Linked DNA regions of Homo sapiens: region 1 is linked to region 2. The links come from fine-mapping of genetic effects on gene expression. A gene starts in region 2. The other region holds a variant in brackets. All regions are shown on one strand. Distances are from middle to middle.

What was found. PIP is the estimated chance that this variant, and not a neighbour inherited with it, causes the effect. A credible set is the group of variants that fine-mapping cannot tell apart.
Region 1: its variant is the best candidate, but not a certain one, in a credible set for the expression of CAPN7 in prefrontal cortex (BrainSeq, PIP 0.59).

Annotation. Positions count from the first base shown.
Region 1 is chr3:15,444,919-15,447,926 of GRCh38, reverse strand. No RefSeq gene overlaps it. Among named protein-coding and RNA genes, the nearest start is that of EAF1, 19 kb to the right of the region's middle. The variant G/A (reference allele first, on the strand shown) is at 1,703.
Region 2 is chr3:15,204,757-15,207,256 of GRCh38, reverse strand. CAPN7 (calpain 7) reads right to left here and starts at 1,011. Exons shown (of 21, transcript NM_014296.3): 1 at 660-1,011. The coding sequence starts at 761. It also overlaps the pseudogene COL6A4P1. RefSeq lists a silencer at 786-1,305.

The DNA.
Region 1 (3,008 bases), 240 kb before region 2:
GCATGATTCAGTCAAGGTCCCCACTCTATTCCTCTACTATCCTCTCAACTATTTGAACCTTTCCATTAATTTGATCCTTAGGGTGGATCCTTAGGGTGTTGACTGCTGCAGTTTCAAGCTTACATCTGCACCCTGCAGAATCCAGAGGAAGAGACAATGCCTGTTCCAGTGGCTCTCAAGAAATTCTTTTCCAGCCAGGCATGGTGGCTCATGCCTGTAATCCCAGCACTTTGGTAGGCTAAGGTGGGTGAATTGCTTGAGCTCAGGAGTTCGAGATCAGCCTGTATAACATGGCGAAACCCCATCTCTATAAAAAATACAAAAATCAGCTGGGTGGAGTGGCGTACACCTTCACTCTCAGCTACTTGGGAGGCCGAGGCAGGAGGATCGCTTGGGCCCAGCAGGTTCAGGCTGCAGTGAGCCATAATCACACCACAGGACTCCAGCCTGGGTGACAGGGTGAGACCCTTTCTCAAAAAAAAAAAAAAAAAAGAAAAAAAAGAAAGAAAATTTATTTTCTGGAAATCCCCAGCAAACCAAGGAGGCAGTGAGCCTCCTTGGTCTGCTTTGGGTCACACGCCTGTTACTGAACCAATTTCTATTGGTCAGGAGAATGGCACTTGCTGACGAATGAAGGCTGGGTTCCTGAACCCATGGAGACAAAGGTTATAAGAATTTAGGACCACTGCATCCTGTCTTAATCCAAAGTACCGGAAAACCTTCTGCATGCCCAACCTGGGAACTGTTCCCCATCACTACCATCCAGCCAAACAATCGGCTACAATGCTCTTCCTCTTCTAGAATGTTGCTGACCCAGGCCATGGGCTTAGCTTAGCACTGTTAGACACGTTATTCTTAGCCTATCCCCTGGAGATTCTGCAGAAGCACAGAGGCTACATGGGGGTGACTTCTGGACCAAATATTGGGGAGCATGAATTGGGGGAATGGGTACAGGGCACACATAATGTCCATTCCACTGGTTATCTGGTTTTGCTTCTCCTTTTGGCAGGAATAGGTGCTGAGTTGCTTGAGGCAAACCTTTGGGAAGACTGCTCACACCATACCCAGAAAGCTACTGGTTGATTCTTTTTTTTTTTTTTTTTTTTTTGAGATGGAGTCTCGCTCTGTTGCCCAGGCTGGAGTGCAGTGGCACAATCTTAGCTCACTGCAACCTCTGCCTCCCGGGTTCAAGTGATTCTCCTGCCTCAGCCTCCTGAGTAGGTGGGATTATAGGTACAAGCCACCATGTCTGGCTAATTTTTGTATTTTTTTTTTTTTTTGAGACAGTGTCTCACTCTGCTGCCCAGGCTGGAGTGCAGTGGTGTGATCTCAGCTCACTGCAAGCTCCACCTCCCGGGTTCACACCATTCTCCTGCCTCAGCCTCCTGAGTAGCTGGGACTACAGGCGCCCGCCACCACACCTGGCTAATTTTTTGTATTTTTAGTAGAGACGGGGTTTCACCATGTTAGCCAGGATGGTCTCAATCTCCTGACCTCGTGATCCGCCTGCCTCGGCCTCCCAAAGTGCTGGGATTACAGGTGTGAGTCACCGCACCCGGCCTGTACTTTTAGTAGAGATGGGGTTTCATCATGTTGGCTGGGCTGGTCTCGAACTCCTGACCTCAAGTGATCTGCCTGCCTTGGCCTCCCAAAGTGCTGGGATTATAGACAGATGTGAGCCACCGTGCCCGGCCTGCTGTTC[G/A]AGTCTTTTAATTTTTTTTTTTTTGGTAGAGATTGAGTCTCACTATGTTGTCCAGGGTGGTCTCAAACTCTTGGCCTCAAGCGATCTTCCCACCTCCACACCCTGAAGTACTGGGATTGCAGGCCTGGTTGATTTTGACAGGTCCACTCACAGAGACTGACTTCTCACAGAGTGCCATAGGTCAAGAAAGATGTGGTGTAGTTTGTGAAAAAAGCAGAAGATTGGATTCACACATCTGGATTTGAAGCCTGGCTCTGCCACAAACTCGCTGTTTAATTAACCCGCTTAATTTACTTCACTTCTCTGAGTCTCTGTTTTCTTACCTCTAAATGGGGAATAATAGTACCTTATTTCAAGGTTGTGGTGAATTTTAGTGATAACATGGTTTAAGGCCGGGTGTGGTGGCTCACGCCTGTAATCCCAGCACTTTGAGAGGCCACGGTGGGCAGATCACCTGAGGTCAGGAGTTCAAGATCAGCCTGGCCAATATGGTGAAACACCCAACTCTGCTAAAACTACAAAAATTAGCCAGGTGTAGTGGTGCACACCTATAATCCCAGCTACTGGGGAGGCTGAAGCATGAGAATCGTTTGAACCTGGGAGTCAGAAGTTGCAGTGAGCTGAGATCGTGCCACTGCACTCCAGCCTGGGTGACAGAGTGAGACTGTCTCCAAAAAAAAAAAAAAAAAAAAAATGTTTTGGAAGTGTTGGATTTTATTTGTTGTTATCATTATTTAGTGGCTCAGGCCAAATCAATCACCTCTTTGGGGATCTAGGGGTATTCACAAAGTTTCACAGTGATTTTTTTCAGGTGGCGGGAGTAACAAAGCAAGGCTAGAGATGTCATTGGAAAGAAAGCAGTAGTCACTCAAAATAAGGAATGGTTGGCCGGATGCAGTGGCTCTTGCCTGTAATCCCAGCACTTTGGGAGGCCAAGGTGGGTGGATCACCTGAGGTCAGGAGTTTGAGACTAGCCTGGCCAACATGGTGAAACCTCATCTCTACTAAAAATACAAAAAACGTGGCTGGGCATGGTGGCAGGCACCTGTAATCCCAGCTACTTGGGAGGCTGAGGCAGGAGAATCTTTTGAACCTGCGAGGCAGAGATTGTAGTGAGCATCATGCATTGCACTCCAGCCTGGGCAACAGAGCAAGACTCCCTCTGAAGGAAAAAAAAAAAAAAGGAATGGTTATGACACTTTTCAATTGCAGCAGTGTGGGAGAAATATTTCTCCTGTTAACGTTGCAACTGGCTTTCTGGTGTCGGCTATGACAGTCTGAGGCATGGTAGGGGCACAGAGCTGAC
Region 2 (2,500 bases):
ATGCACAAATACTTACCACTGCATGTAACTGCACACACCACTGAGTACAGCAACACGCTGCGCAGGCCTGTAACCTAGGAGCAACAGGCCATGCCATACAGCTTAGGTGTGGAACAGGCTGTACCATTCAGGCTTGTGTAAGCGCTTTCTACGGTGTTCGCACAACAACAAAATGGCCTAAGAACACATTTCTCAGAAAATATCACATCGCTAAGGACGCATGACTGTATGTCAAATGCTATGACAGGAGATGGTTTTTATTCTTTTTAAGTTTATTTAACGAGCATGCATTATTTTGATATATATCACAGGCCATTTCCCGCTAGCTGTAAATCAGAGTCAAGTGACAGCAAGAATTGGCTACTAACTACCCATATCTAACACCTGCCCCCCAAAGCGGCTCAACGGTGGGCATTTGCCAGTCAGGACTACAGGTGGAGGAGCGGCGGCTGCAAGCCGCGACCCAGCCTCCCCGCAGCCTCAGCGTCGGCCTCTGCACTCGGGCTTGCCGCTCCCAACAAGAGGAGGGCCGGGAGGCGGACGAGGGAAAAGCAAAGCCGGGGCCGCTAGCCTCCGCACCCGGATCCCGCCCCTCGGCCGCAGGCCCGGGCCGCACTCCGACTGAGCAACTCCGACCGAAGCGCCGGGCCCGGCCCTACCTTGTAATAAAACACCGCCTCGGAGTAGCGGCCTTCGTGGTCGCGCTGAACCGCCAGACGGGCGAACTGCACAGCGTCCCGCTCCAGTGCTGTGGCGTCCATGGCGCAGTGGCCCCGCGCCGGGGCAGGGAAGGAGGCCCTGACGCAGGACGGCTCTTCGCGGACTGCGGCGGCCCGGCGGCGGCGAGGACTCGGGAGCGCCGCGGAAGGAGCGGCAAAGTTTACTTTGGACGGTGGAGGAGAGCTCGCCTTCCCGTTGCCGGGCTGGGGTCCACCGCGAAGCCGCGCCCCTCAGCCCAGACCCGGCTTGTAGCCCACCCGGCCGCCCCACTTCGCGGCCCCAGCGGCCCTCGCCCCGCCCACCAGCCGCCCGACGCAGGCGCAGCCTGGCCCTCACGAGCTCCTTAGAAGCTGGGGCCGCCGAGGCCAGGCTCGCGGGACTGCGCGGGCTGTGGGCGGGGCCGGGCCCACGCAGGAGCCGGGCCGCGGGGGCGGGGCAAAAAGGCCTGCCGCTGTGCACGTGACCGTCGCGGCGCCCGGGATTGAGCAGCTGAGGGCAGGTGCCACGTCCGAGCTGCCCACACACCGCCTTATGCGTGGCGGTGGCGGTGCAGGGCGAGGCTGTTTTCGTCGACAGTGGGCAGTAGAGGGGTACGCGCCTTACAGATCCTTTCCTCTGTTAAGTGTAAGGGATGGGAGTAAAGAGCTAAGGAAGAATGCCTCCCACCAGCATCTGACACATTAAAAAAATTACCGTGAGGACAGAGGTTCTTTAGAGTCACTCTTCGCTAACATTTATTTTCATTTGTTTTCCACAAGCTGAATCATGACCCTATAGCCCCCCACTGTACACCAAGGTCGTATTGATTGAATTGTTAACAAACAAGGTAATGTATTTCCACTTGTACTTACCCTTAGGTTAACTTGATGCTGTTGTAATTAAATACTTAATTAGGTGATTATTTGATTTATGTCTTCTCTCCCCTAAAGGTCTGAAGTCAGCAGTAATAAAAATGAATTAGTGATGGGCACCACCAAATTCATGCTGAGTCAAAGAAGTAAGAATTGAGTACATAATGTATAATTCCATCTATAAGAAACACTAGAAAACACTACGATGTTAGAAAGCAGATCAGTGGTTGGGAAGGGGATACAAAGGAATCTTTTCGGATGATGAGAATGTTTTATATCTCAATGGTGGTGTAAAAATATATACGTTTGTCAAAACTTATCAAACTACATTTTAAGTGTGTACTTTTAATTTTTTAATTATACTCTAAATTTTTTTTCAGTCATTTGGCCTGCATTTAAAATGGGACTCTAATTTCTTAGTTTAAGTGTATTTCTTCACATTTAGTGAAGTTCTTAATAACAACGGTCTCATCAGGCTGTTATAAAGACACACAGAATTTGATTTTGTGCCTGGCCCAAAGATGGCTCTCAAAGGTAGCAACTACAGTTTTATAGCTGAAGCAGGGATGCTTCCTGTCTTTACCACTTTGATCCCAGCGTTGAGCGCAAGCCTTGTTCCAGAGCAGGTGTTCAACAAATATTTTAAAATGTTGAATGAGTCAACTCCACTACTTAAATATATCTAATGTGAGAAAGTCCTTCAGTACATGAGTTCAGGCCATATGTGTTTCAGTCACTGTTTTGCACAAACTGACCCCCAAGCTACAGCAGATAAATATAGTTTTACTCCTCACAGGACTTCGGTTCCTGCTCCCATCACAGCTTATAGAATTCCTAGTGCATCTTGAAGGAAGCCTTTTATTGCACTCCCAGGTAGTTGAGATCTCTTCCTATATTTATTCCTATATTCTGTATAAGGAATTGAATCC